Regions from separate parts of the Homo sapiens genome. Here region 2 is linked to region 1. Evidence: fine-mapped expression QTL. A gene starts in region 1. The other region holds a variant in brackets. All regions are shown on one strand. Distances are from middle to middle.

Region 1 (10,778 bases):
TCTGATTTGGGGGGGTCTGAAATAGGAGGAACCAGGAATCTATACATTTACAAGCATTAACAGGTGATTCTCATCATTAGCCAAGTTTGGAAAACCACAATTAAAGGTGAGGTTCGCAGAGGCCCTAGTGCCTCAGTACTTTTTCATGGTACCTCAGGCCAAAATAAATAGCCAACATTTCTATTTATGAAATTGATAGATCCAAACTTGATAGTTGTAGTTGTTAATATGGTCCAACAGATGTCACTGTGTTTCCCTCAAAAAGTTAAACTATCCCACAGAACCCCTAGGAATTCTGAGGCACCCCAGAGCACTATTTACAAGCTACAGGCCCTAAAGGGAATTTTTTTCTGGCATAGAATGTAAGTAAAAGCTCTGAATGGGCCTTCTATAAGATCAGGCAACAAAGTGAACCTTGTGTTCCACAAATTCCATTGCTTTTAATATCATTTGTTGCTGTTTTCATATGGTTTTTATATATAGAACAGGCACACCAAACATTTTTCTACAGAGGCAGAGAGCACATTTATTTTGTATGTGTGTGTTGTGGGGGGCATAGATGATCTTGATTGCATATTCTTTTCTTATCCATTCTCTTGCAGCCCTTTAAACTTGTAAAAACCATTCTTATCTCCTGAATTTGACCTACAGGCTGCAGTTTGCCAACCACTACTGTAGTTTTAAAACCTAGGGTATAACATTAAAGTGCAATTCAGTGAGGACGATTCTGCAAGATTGGAAGCCCTCAGTGTTTTTGTTTTCCTTTTTTCCCTTTTTGCTCCAGGGAAGACTGTGCAAGGAACACTGGAAGGACTTAGAGATTTCAAAACTACTGTAAACAGAGGGTGGCCACAGAATTTTCTTGCTCTAAATTCTTGACTTAAGGAGAATCTGCAAGTTATCCCAGTTTAATAAAGAATCCCTATTGAATTTCCAATAAAAGGAAATAGGTTATTGCACTAAGCCCTTTATCAATTATTAGCTGATTATGTGAATGGCTAATGAGATTTCACAATTATAACTAATCAGGCAATCCTTAGTTTATAATAGATTCATGTTTATAGAATATGCCATTTGATATTTCTAGCTCTTATTCCCAAAATTAGTGTGGCTGTCTTGAGATTATGCATTGTGCTCAGAACTTAGGTTTTTACGTCGTTTTTTGTTTTTGTTTTTGTTGTTTTTGAGACGGAGTTTCGCTCTTGTTGCCCAGGCTGGAGTGCAATGCCGCTATCTCGGCTCGGCAACCTCCGCCTCCCGGGCTCGAGCGATTCTCCTGCTTCAGTCTCCTGAGTAGCTGTGATTACAGGCGCCCGCCACCACGCCTGGCTAATTTTTTGTGTTTTTCGTAGAGATGGGGTTTCCCCACGTTGGCCAGGTTGGTCTCGACTTTTTAAAGAATCCGGTATGACAAGTATGCATGTTCCTGTGCTAGTCATAAAAGAAATAAATATCACTGGCAATAGCGGTCTTGAGAAAAACTAGGATATTTCTTGAGGAAACTCCAATCCATATTTAAAAAGAAAAAAAGCACACTTTTAAAAAAGTGTACCATATAGGTTCTTCCAAGTTACAGTCTTACAGCCTTCACCAAAAAGATGTTTGTCGATTAAAGCTTTCCTACAACTTCAAGTCATTACTTCTTTTGCAGGTTGTCATAAGCACCCTGAAATTACCGCTGAAAACATTTTATAAATTTAGTCATCCATAGAGACTCCAATATTCCACAAGGGCAGGGACAGTGTATTTTGCTCACCATTTTATCCCCAAGCACACAGAATTGTGTCTACTGCCTATTAGGTGTTCAATAAATATTTGTGAACTTATTGATCAAAGACAAAATTTAGTCAGAATCATCCAATGAAAAGCATTTTGCATTTGATGACTAGTAGACTTAGATGAACAGTTCCAGGACCACCACTAATTTTCCTTGGGTCATTAGAAACATCCCTTTGGGGCTGCGGAGAGAAAATCCAATCTGGCCGCTGCCCCACAGCCCCTTTCTGTTCTGCGCGTTTGCCTCGCCGTTCTGATGGAGGAGGAGGTGGAGGTGGAGGAGCAGCAGCGATTTTCTTAGCCATTTTCTTACCAACAGAGGCCAAAGGAGGCAGCAGTGGACTACACTGTGGGTTGTCTTTGCGAGGAAGTGGCATTGGGCAGAGATGCAGTTCAGCAAACTTATCATTGCAGCAATTTCGGAGCTGACTTTTCGACAGTGCAAGATCTAGAAATGTGTGCAAGACATGCGAAAACCACCACCATTAACACTGAAGATGTGAAGCTCTTAGCCAGAAGGAGTAATTCACCGCTAAAATACATTCAGACAAAAGTGAAGAGCTTGCGCAGATTAACCTAGAACGAAAGGCACAGAAGACAAAGAAGAGGATGGAAACAAAAATGCAAGGGAGCCAGCAGAGGCTGGAGTACAGGAAAGTTAAGAATTAAACTCTCCCGCTGCTTGGAAAATGCAGCTTTCTGCAGGTAGAGCCACCTAGTATGTATATGGCCACAAAGGGAATTTTGAAGGGATAAATAGAGATTAAAAAAAAAAAAAAGGCTAGATGGCTTTTTGTGTTGTATTTTCCAAGTCGTTAACTGCAAACGCTAGTTTTAAAGAGAACTGGACACTCAATCAAAATACTCCTGTCTCACTCCAGCACATACAAATGGTGTAGTTGAATGGTATATTGGAAATTATATCTATTGCAATTAAAATTGTGTGAGCAATTTGAAAGAAAAGAAAAAAAGAAACATCCCTTTCATCTTTCAGAGTGTATTTCCTTATGTGTCAAACTGGAATATTTCTATCTGTGGCCAGTTCCCCGGGATGCTGCTAGAAACACGTGAGACAGCGCGTTCATTTGCTCTACAAAAAGCGAATGAAGGCGCAGTTACCAGGCCAGTCAACCCAGGCTGTTTAAGGTCAACTACTGGGGGACTTCCACGTCACCTCGATATATACGTAACGCGTGTGTGCCGTAACCCGTGAACTATGGAATCCCTAACCGCGAATCACGTGGCTGCTGCCCCGCGGACGCCCTAGACGACGTGAGGGAAGGCGGTGCCGGGCGGGGCCTGTGCCAGGCTGGCGGGCCGCCGCAGACAGAGCTACCCGGAGCAACCGTTCAGGGGTGAGGCCGGAAGTCCCATCCGACCTCGCGGGCAGCCAGCGCTAGGCCGATTCGAACTCGACCTTGTTTTGGCGTTGCTAGGAGACGCGGCTCCTGCGCGCCCCCTACAGGCCGGCGCCCGGGCGGCGCGCGGGCAGGGGGCGGGGACTGTCGCGTGGAGCTGCCGGGCGAGCACCGTTAGGGCAGCCTGGCGCGCGGCGCCCGCCAGGCGCCCAGTCCTCTGCCATCGCCCACGCCTCCCTGGTGCCAGGGAACAGGTATCAGCGCGCCTCCCCAGCGGCTGGGAGAGACGCTGAATGAAGAAGAGGGAAGGACGGTTAGTCAGGTGAGCCGCGGCGGGGTGGGCGGCCGGGGCGGCCACGCCCTGCCGAGGGAGAAGAGCCGGTCGTGTGCGGAGGGACAGGGTGAAGGGATCCCACTTCGGGGAGGATGGGCTTATCCCGGCGGGCGCGCCAGGTGGGATCTCTAGCGCCTCAGGGGCCCGCGCGGCAACAGCCGGCACCCTCGGGCCCGCGGACAAAGGGTTAACGCGTTGGCAGTGACTGCGGGCCCCGGATGTGAGAGCCTTGGCTTGACGCCCTGGCTGCGCTGCAGGTGCGCCGGGCCGAACGGAGCCGGCAGCCTGGCGGCGACCTGACCGCCCGAGGCTCCCCTTCACCTGCAGCGGCTGCTCGGCTCCCTCTGGGAACGCCGCCTTTTCTAACTTAAGGGCAACAGGTGGTGCCGGTGGACCGAGAGAGAGCTCAGCTCCGCCGCGCTGGGAGCGGCAGTTACCCTCACCAATTAGGGAGCGGGGGCGGGAGTTGCATGGCTTCCCTGATGCGGGTGACCAATGGGATTTGGGATCATGAGTGGACCGGGAGGAGTGGGCGTGGTCGGAGTCTGAGTCCAAGGTTTCTCGTGCGGCAACTGCCAGAGCTGCTTGGAGAGCTAAGCTGGAAGGGTGCTTATCCCTGCGTAGAAACGCCTGCCAATGCTTTCTCATTTGGACCCAGACTCCAGATCGGGAGGTGAGAACGTTGTTATTTTGCAAGGGGTAGGAGGTAATAGTGATCTTGGGTATGCTGTTAAGCATGTGGAATTAGATTCCGAAGATAGGACTATCTGCTATGAGTTTTCTGCCAGATAGGCACTTTGTGGTTACGGCCACTTAGACCAGATACTGGTGACTGGGTTCTTTCCAGAATGAGGTCTTTGAGGTTTGGGGACCCAGGAGAAAAACGTACATATTACTGCAATTTAAGTAAACCAGATAATTTCAATCACTGTTATTCCATCGTTTGTCTTGGACTGTGTGTGTTTTCATGTACGTTTCATATCTCGTCTGGTTTGTTTAGCGCAGCAAGTTATAGTAAGTTCTTCGTGTTGTTTATTTTAGCAAAGTAGAGCAAACCTGTTTTAATGTATTATTTCGGGAGAATAACTTATTCCTTCTTCCGTCTCCCAGCAGTCTTATAGCTGGATCAGCTACCAAGAGAAGTTGTAAACCAAGAAGAGAAAAGCATTTCAATTTGGGACATTTATTTGCACCTGGAAATGGGGAATGGGCTGTCAGACCAGACTTCTATCCTGTCCAACCTGCCTTCATTTCAGTCTTTCCACATTGTTATTCTGGGTTTGGACTGTGCTGGAAAGACAACTGTCTTATACAGGCTGCAGTTCAATGAATTTGTAAATACCGTACCTACCAAAGGATTTAACACTGAGAAAATTAAGGTAACCTTGGGAAATTCTAAAACAGTCACTTTTCACTTCTGGGATGTAGGTGGTCAGGAGAAATTAAGGCCACTGTGGAAGTCATATACCAGATGCACAGATGGCATTGTATTTGTTGTGGACTCTGTTGATGTCGAAAGGATGGAAGAAGCCAAAACTGAACTTCACAAAATAACTAGGATATCAGAAAATCAGGGAGTCCCTGTACTTATAGTTGCTAACAAACAAGATTTGAGGAACTCATTGTCACTTTCAGAAATTGAGAAATTGTTAGCAATGGGTGAACTGAGCTCATCAACTCCTTGGCATTTGCAGCCTACCTGTGCAATCATAGGAGATGGCCTAAAGGAAGGACTTGAGAAACTACATGATATGATCATTAAAAGAAGAAAAATGTTGCGGCAACAGAAAAAGAAAAGATGAATATCAATACCTATTATATCTGTGTGGAGTAGGTTTTCTCTGGTCTGATTTTGACAAATAGAAGAGTGTCTACAGCGTGGTTTGCCTGTCTGCCCTCCTGGATGCTATTAAAGCTTTGTTTTGTTGAACAATCAGATGCCCAACTCTGTTGCCTTGTGGAAGATGAGTAAATGCAGTGCTTCTTAAAGTGGTCTCTTCTCCCTACCCCACAAATCTTTTGGTACTACCATTTGGGGAAGCCAAGCAAGGATAGTAAATTGACCAGAACACAGTTGTGGGAATTTGGTCTGAAGTTAGTGAAATAAAACTTTAAAGAGTGTCTGCCTAGTGTTTTGTGCTTACATCTTTCGGGGGGAAGCCTTTGCAAGAAAATTGCATACAAGGCTTTGTAACGATCAAGTGCTAATCGATGGAAATGTTAAGGTAGATTAACATATATGCAGTTATATTGATCACATTGGTCCAACCAGTCCTTTTTTGAAGTAAGGGACAAGGAGTAAGTATTTTCTTTTTTAAGTTTCTGCCAAATGATTTTTGACGCTTTCTGGAATCAAGTAATTTAATAGTATAGCTTAATTCTAGACAATGTTTAAGTTGGTCTACCTTTATTAAAAATAAGATATTTGGGGTATATTCAAGTGCATGGATTAGTTTTCCTGACAAAGCATGTTTTGGTGTGTAGTCTTACTTTTTAGAAATAGCTATGCATCGTTCTACACAGGTTTAAAACAACTTTTTTGGGGATTTAGGGCTATTATAGGAATAGTTTGTTGTCAGAAGCACTTTCACTTGAAGAACCTAAAATGATTGACTCATTCATAGTAAATATGGGCATGTAAACTAATAAATATGCACTGGATACATATATGGATTTATGAAGAAGGCGATTTAGTCAAGAGGATGTAATTAAAATATGTGGTCTCTAAAATATTCCAGTTACAAGATATTTGTTTTATTAATATTTGCTGGCTAAAAACAAATGTGGTTTTTATATATTTTTGTAGTGTGTTGAGAAGAGCAAAAGCTTTATAAATATACCTGATGCGCTGTAGAATGAAAATGTAAAAGATAACCTGTATGTGTTCCGAGCTTTAATTTTTTGTTTACAAATTGAACAGTGTTACATGGGCTGTCCAGTCCTGATTATAGAGAGGAAGAAATGGTAACAGTATGGCAGATAAGAATTACAATTATAGAAAATGAGGGGAAAATAACAAACCTGTTTTATGAAAATTCACTGGTGCTGTTTACATTGGAATAAAAAGCTCTATAAGGAGGAAAGGCCTTTATCTAATTCTTATCTACAGACACTTACTTCCAGTGACCATATTTTACTAAATCAGCTTATTTTTTATGTCTAAAGCAACAGCTGTTCTGAAAAATCACCAAAAGAAATGCACTTTGCTAGCAGGATTTGTTTTGGCTTTGGGTTTTGTTTTTTTGTTTTTTTTTTTTTTCAGTGGCATAACAGTTTTTGGAACCTTGATTCTTGTGTCACACAAAATGAATGAAGTAGCTTGATGTGGAGCCTTCATATGTTAAATATTCCTGCACTAGTGATGGTCACTTAGAATGTTTATAGAAATGTGGATAATAACTACCAATAAACTACTTGAGGCACTAGGAGAACAGTATTTGACTTTGAATTTTAATGTATTTCCACTTTTGCTGAAGCTTTTAATCAGATGTGTAAAAACAATTGACCAGCTAGGCTATTTAGTCCCATAGTAGTTCAGATCTGCTTAGATGTGACAGGCATTGAAGGCTGTTTTTTTTTTTTTCTCCCTTCACTGATACTGAAATCATGGTATCTGCTGCAAACATGAGTAGATCCATGATGGATTAATAAAGCTTGCTGAAAAAAAAAATCTGTGTATCAATTAGATTTACCAGTTTGCCTGTACTTTCTGTCTACCTACTATGTAAAATAGTGCTGTTTTTAAGTATTTCAAAAGCTTGTGTGTTGACCCTTTGTAGCCTAAGTACGTAAACAAATTAATGTTATCTAAGTTTTTCATATTTCATGGACAACAAAAGAGAAAATGGTATGAACACTGTACAAACTTTGATTTATAAAAGACAATTTCAGCTATAAAACCCATCCTAAGATTTTCTAGCTTGCTAAGTTCAAGTTCCCTACCGCCTATTCTAGTTATTAACACTGTAGTATAATGAGTCTTTAAATTCTGAAGAGTTTAGACTATGCTTTCATATCTAGTTTCTTCTTATGGCGCACCTTTTCTAGTGCATAGTTCTAAAATATTTTCTTGTATTTGAAGTTACTTGGTTTAATACAAAATATTAAGGACTGCTCAACTGAATCCAAGTTAATATCAAAGAACAAAGTGTAAGAAAAATAAAACCTTTTGATAGTTAAAGATAATTTTTAAAATGTGCAGAGTTCTTAAAATGGTTTATAAATGGTATTCTTAAACCATCAGAAGTTTACTAAGACTTAATCATGGAAAAATGAACTAAATCTTTATAGGGAGACAAAAAAATGAAGTTATTAATGTAAATATATATATAATATATAAGAATAATTACTGGTCTGTAAATGAGTGATGGTTTATCAACAGAGGGAAAGGCATAGACTTTGTTTGTACAAGGCATTTTTTTTTTTTTTTTGAGACAGAGTCTTGCTCTCTTGCCCAGGCTGTAGTGCGGTGGCACAATCTCAGCTTACTACAACCTCTGCCTCCTGTATTCAAGTGATTCTCCTGTCTTAGCTTCCCAAGCAGCTGAGATTACAGGCACACCACCATGCCCAGCTAATTTTTATTTTTAGTAGAGATGGGGTTTCGCCATGTTGGCCAGGCTGTTCTTGAACTCCTGACCTCAGGTGATCCACCCGCCTCAGCCTCCCAAAGTGCTGGGATTACAGAAAGTAGCCACCATGCCCAGCCTGTACAAGACATTTGATGCAAGGATTGTTCCATTAATAATTCATGGTGACCTTGAAGGAAATCTTTGGTTTTTCAAGATTCTATTTAATACAACAATTTCCTCTGTAATGTAAACAATGATTTCATCAGCGATAATAAAGATGCAAAAAAAGTTTTATCAAACTTTATATGATGTAAAAACTCAGCATTCAGCTGATGCAATTGAGAATCTTGAGTACACCATCATTTGAAGCTGGAATTTTACCTTTAAGGTTTAAATTTGGCGGAACATTCTGGAAATGTAAAATCATAATGTTAATATTAAAATCTATGAAGATCAGAAGTAATAGTCTCAACAAACCATAGCCAGAGTATGTATTCAATTCTGTGCATGCACATTAAAAATATGGGAATACCTGTACAGGAAGCTAGTTTAGGAGGATGTTAAATGTACTGGCTAAAAACATGAGCTTTGGAGTCAGATCAGTGTTCAAATCCTGGCTCTCCCGTTATTACACATGAACCTTTAGCAAATTCCTTGAAACTTATGATGAGAATGCCCTCCTGGTTAAATGAAGACTGTTTCATAGAATTTTGAGAGTGTTGAAATAACATGTACAAACTTTCACATATTGCCAAGCATTTGATAAAAACTGACCTACTATTGTTAACCAGTAGGAATCAATATGTTTATTATTTCATCTGGGGCAATTTACTTGCAGCCTTAGTTTCTTAATTTGTAAAGTGTGGGTTATATATATCTACCACTGGGGTATAACTGATTAAAAGGATTAAATCAAGCAATGATATTTAGCAGAGTAACTGACACTTTAGTAAGCATTCAATTGATAGTTATTAATAGCCAGAATACCTTATGATCAACGTATTTAAAGAAAATACTTGTTTTGGCAGGGGAATATAACATAGTGAGCTCATACATGTCACAAAATGGCAACTTGGTGGAACTTAGTGAAAGTCTAAATATGCTGAACTCCCTTGAAATATGGATCATTTCAAGGGATCATATGGTACTTAGGTTTCTAAAGTACCAATTTATTGTAACACAATATTATCTTACCTTTCCCTGTAAGAGATAAAATTTAATTTAAAATCTCGGTTATTTTCTGGTGTAGGCATATATCAAAATACAATACCTCACTTTTCAGACATTAAAATTTGAAACTATATATTATGGTTCTTCAAAATGCCTCAAGATTGTTATCTATAATTCACAAATTTGATCGAATGATAAGATCAAATTTGCAGTATCTGTGGGCACATCTGGTTGATGATGGTGGTTGTGTTTGTGGGTGATTATGTGTGCTGTGTTATTTTCCAGTTACTTTCAGTCTTTGGTCTTGTTTTATGTCTCCTGTTTATGTTGCACTGAAGTGGAGATTACCTGTATTAGTGGTTGAAGAGAGATGTTGAAGTTGATTCATTTCAGTGAAGGTCTACCTTTAGATAAAATCTTAACTTTTTGTTATGACAGATTTCAATCTTATACAGAAGTAGAATAATATAACAAACACCCAAGTATCTGTCATCTAGTTTCATTAATTATCAACTCAGGGCCAATCTGGTTTCCTCTATACTTCCATTCACTTCCTTCCATGCCACCTTCCTTTTTCCTCCACTTCTAGATTATTTTGAAGTGAGTTCTGGAAATTACATTTCATTTATAAATAGTGGTATATGTGTCTAAAAGATAATCACTTAAAAAAATTTCACTCACATGTAAAAAAAATATGCTTCTTCAAAATAACCAAATATCCATCCAGTGTTTAGATTTCTATTATTATTATTATTTGAGACAGAGTCTTGCTCTTTTCACCCAAGCTGGAGTGCAATGGCATGATCTCAGTTAACTGCAACCTCAGTCTCCTGGGTTCATGCCATTCTCTTGCCTCAGTCTCCCCAGTATCTAGGATTACAGACACTTGCCACCATGCAGGGCTAATTTTTGTGTTTTTAGTAGATACGAGGTTTCACCATGTTGGCCAGGCTGGTCTCGAACTCCTAACCTCGTGAACCTCCCAACTCGGCCTCTCAAAGTGCTGGGATTACAGGCGTGAGAATACAGAAAATTAGCTGGGCGTGGTGGTGCATGCCTGGAGTCCCAGCTACTCGGGAGGCTGAGGCAGGAGAATTGCTTGAACCCAGAAGGCGGAGGTTGCAGTGAGCCAAAATTGCGCCATTGCCCTCTAGCCTGGGTGACAAGAGCGAAACTCCATTTCAAAAAATATATATATATTTGATATATTGATATATTTCTATCTCTTGCAGCTTATTATTCCCATTTATGCATAAATTGTCTCATCTTTAGAGAGAACTGAGTCTTTTTCACAGAACCCTAGTAGTTTTTGATGGCTTTTTTGATTTCTCATTTAACACAAAGTCCCTTAACCTGTACATTTCCTGTCCCAGATCTGTTTTTCTAGGATGCCAGGTTCCTTGTATTAGGAAATGGTATTTAGAGTCCACAGTCTATTACTGGATTTGTCATTGTTTCTAGGCCTTTTCAGTGGATAGTACTAGAACTCTATTTTTTTAAGATTAGATACATTATTAATTCACAGTGATAGTTCCAATTCAAAGATTTACATTCAGAATGATAAGGCAT
Region 2 (10,778 bases), 34 kb after region 1:
CTCTTCTTCAAAGTGACTCTCAGAAAACATTCATGATGACATTTCTTTTTAGAATCTCACACCTAGACTAATCTACACCTACCAATTTTAGTTATTACAAAAAACTGTTGTAAAACAACCTGCTCCTACCCTTTCGTTTGTTTGTTTTCTTCTTTTTCTTTTTGATATGGGGTCTCGCTTTGTCACCCCGTACCAGGCTGGAGTGCCATGGTACAATCATAGCTCACTGAAAACTCAAACTCTGTGGCTCAAGTGATCCTCCTGCCTCAGCCTTCCAAGTAACTAGATCTATAAGCACGCACCACCACACCTGGCTACCCAGCTAATATATGTGTGTGTATAGATGGATGTATCTTTTTTGTAAATATATTTTGTCTGTTTGTAGAGACAGCTGTATAGACAGCTAATATATGTGTGTGTATAGATGGATGTATCTTTTTTGTAAATATATTTTGTCTGTTTGTAGAGATAGCTGTATAGACAGCTAATATATGTGTGTGTATAGATGGATGTATCTTTTTTGTAAATATATTTTGTCTGTTTGTAGAGCCTGTTTGTAAAACAGGAAGGGGGGTTCATCAGCCAATGTGTGTGCACGTCCACACAGACACATCCACTAGGCATAAGACAGGATGTTTGTATTGCCCAGGGTGGTCTCAAAGTCCTGGCCTCAAGCAATCCTCCTGCCTTGGCCTCCCAAAATGCTGGGATTACAGGAATGAACCATTTGCCCAGCCGCTTTTTTCTTTTTCTCCCTTCCCTCCCTCCCTTCCTCCCTCCCTCCGTCCCTCTTTTCCTTTTTTCTTCCTTCCTTCTTCTTTTTTTTGAGACAGCGTCTGTCTCTGTCGCCTAGGCTGAAGTGTGCAGTTGCACAATCTCGGTTCACTGCAACCTCCACCTCCCAGGCACAACCAATCTTCCCACCTCAGCCTCCCAAGTAGCTGGAACTACAGGTGCAAGTCACCACATCCAGCTAATTTTTATATTTTTATAGAAATGGGGTTTGGCTGTTTTGCCCAAGCTGGTCTCAAACTCTTGGGCTCAAGCGATCCACCTGTCTTGGTCTCCCAAAGTTCTGGGATTACAGGCATGAGCCACTGCACCTGGCTTGAACCAATTTTTTTCTTAACTAAAGCCAATTGGGTCTGTCTGAGGCATTTAAAAAGTTTTTGACTTATATTTTTATTTTAGATATGAAACCTTAATATCAGTCAAAATCAGTATAAATAACATTCATTTGATAAGAAAAACTAAATACAAATAGTTCCAAGAAGTGTTAATATTTTTATCTTAATTGTTTTTGTAAGATTGAGCTGATTTGATCACTCCTTCTAGAAACACTACTCTCTCGGCTTCTGTGATATCACACTCAACTGATTTCCTTTCTACCTCTCTTGCTGTTCCTGCTTGTTCTCCTTTGCTAATTTTTACTTCTTTACTCAATTGCCAAATGCTACAGCATTTTGGATTTGCTTCAGTCTCTGTTCTCTATCCATTTTCTATTCATTGTTGACCTCATCCAACCCCATGAATTTAAAAACGATCTCTATGCTGATGAGTCTAAAATTTCTGTCTTCCATCCTGACATCTCCGCTGGTTTCAGATGTCTAATCCACATCTCCCTTTGTATGTTTAATTAAAATGGTTGTCACATGTATGGAAAAGGACTTTTAACTATCCTAGCCTTGTCCAACTAATTAAACCACTATTTACCTTGTTGTTCAAGCCATTTCATAGTCTTTTGTTTTTGTACCTCTCCATAGCTCTTCTCTTCTCTCTCTACAGACTAGCTTTTCTGCTGTGTATTACTTTCCTAGGGCTGGTGGCCAGGGCTGGATCCCAATTCCAGCCCCTGGCCTGGAAAAGTCACTGTGGATCAGGCTATGTCAGCTATAAATCCTGATCCTCCACAGGCAGAATAGGATAATAATCATGTTCTATGATCAGGTCTCAGGCATGGCTATGGGTGGGGCAATTTTCAGAGAAGGCAGTTGGTGATGCATGGGTTGCGCAGTCTTCCCAGTAATGTTTACTACACAGCCTTGCCAAATTTTCAGGAGTTTTTATATTCCTGACGCCCTTGACTTGCACATTCATGTAAAGAATCAGAAAGGAAAGATCATGCTTTTATCAGTCATGACTGTAGTCCAAAGACTTCTTTTTCTGCTCTATCATTTGTCTTTTTCTTACTGATTAAGAAATAACTTGGCCTATGTGATTTACCATCCCTCCTTGATATGAGACCTTTCTTCAAGATCAGTCCAGCAGGTTTTATTTTACTTTATTTTTTCCCTGAATGTGCCAGCCGAGTTTAGACAACGTGCACTTGCCAAGTAGGCCTTTTAGGGAGTAATCAAATATACTAGAAGCTATGATGACTAAGTACCCTCAAATTCAACCCGAGTCTGTTAAAATTGTCTCAACTGTAACCTTTATAATATGATCCTGAGTCACTGTGGGTGGTGGGGGTGGGGGTGGGGAGAGCACAATTATAGGAATTCCCCAAAACAGAAGAAATCTAGTGAGAGAAAAAAAAAAGAGCAAATGCTCCTAATTTTGACAATTCAATGAAAGTTTGAAGGATGATAAAGATTCACCTTTCCTTTGTATCTTCATCCATACTAAGCGCATCACAGAAGGAGAGCTGGTTTGTACAATCTATCTTTCTAAAAGAAAGTGGCATTCATGCTAAAAAATGAGGGGGAGAAGCCTCTAGCTGCATGAACTAGAATAATCTTTACTTATTTTTACTACTTTAGATTCTCAAGAGTAATTTTCAAACGGAAATCTACTGAGGGTTTTTTTTTTTTTTGGCTGGGATAGGCCTTCCTGTCTAGCAATGAAGCCATTTCCACTTAATAATTACAGGGTTGTTATGGAAATTCCCTTTTAAAAGTATTACTTTAAAAAATTGTGCAATGTTACCGCCTCCCCCCTCCCGCCGCAAGACCCTAAAAAAAACTTACATCACACCAAGAATAAATGATGTGATATTTTTTTCTGTAGGATTGCTGCCGTTAGAGAGAAATGAAAGCAATATTTTAGCAGCCTGTTGCTTCGCAGGATAAACATTGCCCTTATCATTCTTTGTGGATTGATTTTTGCCTGCTTGATGACAGAATTCTTCACATGACAGCTAAATTGTTTTGATTATTGAAAATATCACAAGACAAAATATGGTACAATCATAATTTCTTCCCTTTTCTCTCTTTAATCCAAATTATACATCAAAACCGAGAACATGGCCAGGCGTGGTGGCTCACGCCTGTAATCCTAACACTTTGGGAGGCTGAGGTGGGTGGATTGCCTGAGCTCAGGAGTTCAAGACCAGCCTGGGCAACACGGTAGTCCTCAACACCCCTCAACACAGTGAAACCCCATCTCTGCTAAACACGGTGAAACCCCATCTCTACTAAAATTAGTACAAAAAATTAGCCTGGGCGTGGCGGCATGCGCCTGTAGTCCCAGCTACTCAGGAGGCTAAGCAGGAGAATGGCTTGAACCTGGGAGGCGGAGGTCCCAGTGAACTGAGATCGCGCCATTGCACTCCAGCCTGGGTGACAGAGCTAGACTCTATCTCAAAAAAAGAAAAAAACAACCTGAGAAAAAACCAAGTCACTGGCAATGAGATTCACAAACTTATGAAAAGTAGGGAATAAAAAAACAGGATGAATCATAAAATATTTTTTGTATTAACTAGATAAAATCTATCCTTCTGAGTGATATTCCCACCTGTTTTCAAGCAAATGGATAAAAATCTCTGGTAAAATAATAGACTATGGAGAAGATTCAGGTAGGAGCTCCTGCTCTGCCTTCTTCCTTGTTTTTTCCAGTGACTATTGAAAAAAATGGGGAAGAAAAGAGACACTGATAAAGCTTCCAAATTTTCCCAGTAGGAGAGAATTATAAACTTTTCCTACAACTTTTTCGTTTTAGACAAAGAGTTTAGTGGTCAGATGAGTTTGGGGATCAATGTTGCTTACATACTCTGATTTCAGGCCTTAACTTCTTGTTAAGTTCCAGACCTATGTACCCAGCCACGTTTACAATGTGTCCTCCTGGAAGTTCTGCAGGCAATTCAAACTCCAAAACTTAACTCTCAGTGTTTGTTTCCATATCAGCTTCATTTCCTACCAGCTATCCCATTGCCCAAGTCAGAAAATTGGTATTCATGCCATGTGGCTCTCTCTCTGTCACCGCCCTCTCACCCTTGATCCAAGCCACCCAGTTCTTTTTACTTTGTGTCTTCCCCATCTCTCTGACATGCCTCCTTTTTCTCTTTCTCTCTCTC[TCTC/T]TTTTTTTTTTTTTTTTGAGATAGAGTCTTGCTCTGTCATCCAGGCTAGAGTACAGTGGTGTGATCTCGGCTCACTGCGACCTCCACCTATGGGGTACAAGGGATTCTCCTGCCTCAGCTTCTCAAGTAGCTGGAATTACAGGCGCTTACCACCATGCCTGGCTAATTTTTGTATTTTTAGTAGGGACAGGGTTTCGCCATGTTGGCCAGGTTGTTCTCAAACTCCTGACCTCAGGTGATACACCTGCCTTGGCCTCCCAAAGTGCTGGGATTACAGGTGTGAGCCACCGCGCCTGGTCTTTTTTTCTATTTTCAATCACTGGCGAGGCTCTCACTTGGTCTGCCTGTGATTACTCTCCTCCTTTTCCTCAAATTCATCCTTCACACTGTTGCCATAAATTTTCTATACAAATCCGCCCTAGACAGTCCCATGTTCGAAATACTTAGATGATTCCTCTTTAAGATAAAGTTCCTACCTTCACTTATTCCCCCTCAGATCTCCTATCTCCCTTACATGAAGCCTGTGCTTCAGAAGTTCCCTGAAGTTGATGCTCTCTCTTTCCAGCACTGCCTGCTCATACTGCTTTACTGGAACCCCTTCCCACTCTCGTATGATTGGCCAATTTCTTCTCATTCAAGGCTCAGTTGATGTGCAACCTTCCCTGACACTTCTGTATCCACCTTTCTGAGTAATGTGTTCCTCCTTTATGTTTCCTCAACATCTTGTACGTGCTCTGACACAATAGTAAAAGGCAATGTGATACTCAATAGCTGAGAAGAGCATTGCCACTGGAATCAGACAGATCTGGGCTTGAATTATGAGTCTGCCATTTACTAATATCAACCCAGAAATATAATCTCAGTAAACCTCATTTTTATCTATAAATAATACAGATAATAACAGCTATATTACAAGTGTAAGTAAACATAAGTCTATATAAGTTTTAAGTAAAATAAAATGTATACAACATAAAAATTAGTGCCTAGTATGATGTAGTTGTATCTCCCCCGTAACTGTGGGTATATCATGTTCTTTTTGGGATCCTCAGGGCCAAGAAGAGAGTTGGCTCAGAAATGCTGCTAAGATGTCAGCATTTGACACTATTGCCAACTTCCTCCTATAAATACACTCTCTTGGCTTAAATTTCTTGACACAATTCTCATCTCTGTTCTTCCTATCATTCTGGCTGCTCTTTTTTCTATATATTTTGCTGAGTATTTCTCATATACTTATCTTTTTAGAGTTCATCAGGCCCTGTCCTACTGCCTCTTTTTATCTCATTCTCTCTTTACCTCATTTGTTCAAAGATTAACTAACCAACTGCATAAGAATTACTTGCCTTCCTTTTCCTGGAAACATGCAGAGTAAGAATACTTAGTATTTGAGGGAGATGAGATCATGGATTTGCATTTTTAACAAGTTCTTTAAGTGAGTCTTCAACACACTACATTTGAAAATTGTGGCCGTAGAAATTTCTTCCTCTCCTGTATCTTCAAACACTATGCATTTGCTGAAGATTTTTAAATTTATGTCTGTGTCCCAGACTGCACTGTTGTATTCCCAACCCATATAGCCAACAGCCTCTTTGGCATTTTCCTCTGGAAGTTTCTCAGGCAAAGTGTTCAAACGTAAAATTTGTATACTTCTCTGCTAAGTATTTCTTAAACGAAGCAGCTTCTACCCAAATGCTCAAACCTAGGGACAGCCATCTCCTTCCTCTTCCCTCCCTCTGCTCTAGCACCAGAATGCGTGTAATATCTCTTGAATCTTTCCACTTCTTTCCAACCCCACTACATACCCTCTAGTGTAAGCCACAGTTTTCTCAGCCAGAATTTCTGTAATAGGCTTCTAATTCATCTTCTTAATGGTAATTAAGTATGGGCTCTGAGTCTGACTTTTAGGTTTTAAAATATCTGTTTGTCAAAACTTGTTTAACCTTAGTTTCTTCTTCTATGAGGGTGGGATAAAATAGTATCTACCTCAAAGGATTTTAAGATGAGTTACATAGGTAATTAATGTAAATCTCTTTGTAATGTATGGGACACACAAGAAGCTCACAATAAATTTTTATGAACCACTGCTACTCCCCTTCTGCCCATCAGCCACTCAGTGACAGTGATCCTTAAATATGCAAATCAAATCATCATACTTTTCTTAAAAACCCTACAATGGCTTTTTTTTTTTTTTTGAGATAGAGTTTTGCTCTTGTTGCCCAGGCTGGAGTGCGATGGCATGATCTCGGCTTACTGCAACTTCCGTCTCCCAGGTTCAAGTGATTCTCCTGCCTCAGCCTCCCGAGTAACTGGGATTACAGGCATGCACCACCATGCCCAGCTAATTTTGTATTTTTAGTAGAAACAGGGTTTCACTATGTTGGTCGGGCTTGTCTCGAACTCCTGACCTCGTGATCCACCTGCCTCGGCCTCCCAAAGTGCTGGAATTAACAGCCGTGCGCCACCGCGCCCAGCCTTTTTTTTTTTTTTTTTTTTTTTTTTTTAAGCAGTCTCCATCGCGCAGGCTGGAGTGCAGTGACGCGATCTCGGTTCACTGCAACCTCTGCCTCCTGGGTTCAAGTCATTCTTCTGCCTCAGCCTCCCGAGTAGCTTAGATTACAGGCATGCGCCACTACGCATAGCTAATTTTTGTATTTTTAGTGGAGATGGGGTTTTGCCATATTGGTCAGGCTGGTCTCAAACTCCTGACCTCAGGAGATCCACCCGGTTGGGCCACCCGAAGTGGTGGGATTACAGGCGTGAGCCACCATGCCTAGCCTTCGATGGCTTTTAATGTCTTTAAACTACAGTGGTTCCTTGGTATCCTTTGGGTAGTGGTTATAGTACCTCTCCCCTATTCCTGACACCCATGGATACCAAAATCTGCAGGTGCTTGAGTCCCTTATATAAAATGGTATAGTATTTGCATATAACCTATGCACATCCTCCTGTATAATTTCAATCATTTCTAGATTGCTAATTCAAGGTAAATGCTATATAAATAGTTGTCATACTGTATTTTAAATTTGTATTATTTTTATTGTTGTATTTTTGTTTTTAAAATTTTTCCAAATATTTTCTATCCTCATTGGTTGAATGCATGGATACAGAACCCTCAGATAAAAAGAGCCCAGTGGATTGACCTTTATATGGCTTTTGCGATCCCGTATGGTTGTTTAGCCACAGTTTAAAGTCCCACTACCATTTTTCACTACTCTTTCTTTTGATTTTTTCCCTCCAGCAATTCTGGATTTCTTTTGTTACTTGAGTGGACCATTCTCTCCTTTGCATCTAGGCCTGCATAGTATTTCATAGATTTTAGGAGAAAAAAACACTTTATTATGATGGGCTACTTCCTTTGAATTCAGTTTCTCCTTCTTACCTTTTTATACCAATTATTACAATTGTAATTTTGTTCTTTGGCCATTATTCCTATATTCCACTTTGATGGTGAGGAACATATCTGTCTTCTTCATGGTTGTTTTTCCCCAGTGCCTGGCACATAGAAGACATTTGATAATATTCATTGACTGAATGAATATGATGTTCAATGTATTAATCATTTCCCATTTCTACTTTGCATATTCTGTCTTAAATAATGATTGTATTTTCTGTAGAGTCTCACTTTGGATATTAGATGTGTACTAGGATTAAGTAAAAATAACTGAACAATGTTCTAAAAATTCTGAGATTTCTATCGGAGAAATATTTACATCTGCAAAATTTTTCCTAGAAAATAAGTTCCCAGAAATGATACATTTTTGATGTCCAATAAATAAATTATTCATTCAATAAAATTGAGTGTTCTTAATTATAAAAACATTTCTTAATCCTGTATGGTATGTTACTTCTACTTAATATGACAAAACTGCTTTCAGACATATTATTAAACTTGAAAAGGGATATTAAGTTTTATTTGGATAGAAGGACTAAATATTTTATAAAATGTATTTAATCATTGTCTGCCCTTTGTTACTTTTCAATATGATAGCCTATAAATATGTAATTGATAACTCTGTAAACTAATAGAAAATTTGAGGTCTATGGTATTGATGTTATCAAGACTCCTTAGATCATTTTAAGTTTTCTTTCTTATTCGTTTTTTTTTTTTTTTTAAGAGATGGGGTCTCCCTTTGTTGTCCAGGCAGGAGTGCAGTGATGCAATCATCACTCTCTGCAGCCTTGAACTCTTGGGCTCAAGCGATTCTCCTGCCTCAGGCGCCTGAGTAGCTTGGACTACCGGCATATGTCACCACACCCAGCAATTTCTTATTTTTTAATTGCAAAGAAAATCTTTACCTTTTTCTTTCTGACTTGAAGCAGGTCATCAGATTGTCAACAGCTGCACCTTTCCTCATTTTGATGCTTATTTACCCCCTTTATTTACCCCCATAGCTACTCCCACACAGCTGAAATAAATGGGTAATTTATTAGAACCCAGCCTCTTAATTAGTTATACACCTTTAACATTGGCTTGAATCTTGGAGGCCCATCCCAGCACCCACATTGGTTCCAAGATTTTCAGCCTAGTGTAGTGGCTATAAATAGCTCATTTCTATCTACACTTAAGTTTTGAAAGAAGGAAAGAAAGAAAGAGAGACAGAAAAAGAAAGAAAGAAAAGAAAGAGAGAAAGAAAGGTTGCTGTAGTTAGAGTCAGAAGAAGAGTTTGTTGAAGAAGTAGAATTTGTTGAAGTTGTTAATTCTGGTAATAACTGCTAACCAGCTGCTAGATAGAAAATATGAAGAGAGAAAAATCGAGCCCTAGGTCACCATTACTTCACTGTGCCTCTGACATTAGCTCTTCCCCCAGGATATACATAGTAAGTAATTATTTTATATATTTCAATTTATTGAGTGTCTAATATACGCAGCAAGCTATCTCAAATCTTCTAATTATGTATTTTTGAAATGAAGAAACTGCCTATCAGGTTAGGTTTGGTTAAATAATGTGTCCAGAGTCCCTTGTACAGTAAATTGTGGGGTCTGGTGTTTCTTCCTAACTGTAGGGACTGTTCTCTTTCCAGGGTGCCTCACTGCTTTTATCCTCAAGTGATTTACTTTAAATCATTTAAAGCAGATCAACTTTGTATCCAAGTGGCTGATTTTAAAAATGACCCATCACTTATCGTATCTGCTGCAGCTCCCCCAACCCCTCCTCAAGCCCAGGTAGCATCAGTGGACTCCTCTTTGGTTGGCTTTCTCCACTACTCCACACCTCCCTCCACCTATTGGGAAGGTGGCCTTCCTTGAAGGTATCATGTCATCGAAGTACTGCTTCCATTAAGTCATAAGTCTACTTAGAGTTGCCTTTGTTCAGAACAAAATAGTCAATTTTTGTGCACAGTATAAAACGAGAGAAGGCCTCGACCAAAACTATCTCCATAGAAATTTCATCAATAGAAATTTGCTCCTTTGGCTTTACAAGCCACTTAAAGCTGTTTAATTTGCCTGAAAGGGTTAACACTTGTTGCCACTATTTAGCTTAAACTGAACCTTTTTTTCAATAGTTTTCCTTCTACCAGTAAGCTGAAATCAGCTTTCTTGAGTAAATGTAAGTTTTAATGCAGGGTGGGGTAGGATGGAGTGAATGAGAAAGGGAAGATGGGTGGATGTGGGCTTTAAGGTATTAATGAAGTTCAGTTTTGGAGTAGAGCCCAAAGGGAGAGCAGTTCTAGAACTCATGCTAGTCTCTTGTAATAATTGGAACTTCCAGAGATAGGCAAAATCTGCTGGCTCCTCCAGAGGAGGTAACACAAAACGCAAGGAATGTGGCTATGGCTCAGTCTTGGAGATAAGATGCATCCCAGTTTTGTTAAGGCCAACTAACTACTAAACTCTGGAAAAGTGGTATTACATCCTTGTCTTCAGCCACAGGTTTTTCCCTAGTGAAAACACTTCCAAGTATATTTTGTCTCATTCATTCTAAGTCCCATCTATGTTTTGGTGAGAAATTATTAGGTTGCATGCTACAAACTCCCACACAACCTGCTTTGGGAATTTTCTTGTAAGCACCCTGGGGACTCTCATGAAAGAAAAGTGCAGCACATATAGCTGGCCTCACGCGAACTGGACATTTGTCAGGAAGTGACTCTCTGTTTTTCTCCCTCCCTAGAGCTACATGATTTTTTGTCCCAGCTTCTCCACGTGTGTCTGCTATATTCTTCGGTCTCTGGAGACTAATTTCCTATAAACATTTCCATATAGGAAGCGTAAAAGAACAAAAATTTGTGGTAGTTGTAGTTGGAGTGTTATAGGACTTGTACAGAAGCTGCGAGCTGACTGTTTTAAATTAGACCGTGTATTAATTTGGGATGGATTGTAGGGGGTTTCAGCTACCACTGACACACCATCACACGTCCCTGTGAATCTGGCCTGTCTGTGAAAATCCTGGCAGATGATTCAATGTGGCCTTTCAGTGTCTCAATTCCAAATTCCTAGACCAGAGAATAGTTGCCCAGCTTCAATCTCTCATCAGTGCTCAACCCATTA

Direction of the effects. Positions count from the first base shown, and alleles are read on the strand shown. Sizes are in standard deviations (SD) of each study's normalised expression.
For the expression in monocytes after R848 of the gene that starts at base 4,046 in region 1, TCTC is the high allele of the variant in region 2 and T is the other (moderate effect, 0.54 SD a copy in Quach 2016).

Evidence for each region.
Region 2: its variant is fine-mapped to the expression of ARL4A in monocytes after R848 (Quach 2016, PIP 0.95).

Annotation. Positions count from the first base shown.
Region 1 is chr7:12,683,588-12,694,365 of GRCh38, forward strand. It overlaps ARL4A (ARF like GTPase 4A), which reads left to right and starts at 4,046. Exons shown (of 2, transcript NM_005738.5): 1 at 4,046-4,141; 2 at 4,579-7,371. The coding sequence starts at 4,668. The coding sequence ends at 5,270. It also overlaps the pseudogene LOC100505995. RefSeq lists silencers at 3,081-3,360, 3,561-3,610 and an enhancer at 3,555-4,091.
Region 2 is chr7:12,717,307-12,728,084 of GRCh38, forward strand. No RefSeq gene overlaps it. Among named protein-coding and RNA genes, the nearest start is that of ARL4A, 35 kb to the left of the region's middle. RefSeq lists a cis regulatory region at 5,409-5,809 and an enhancer at 5,478-5,772. The variant TCTC/T (reference allele first, on the strand shown) is at 4,292.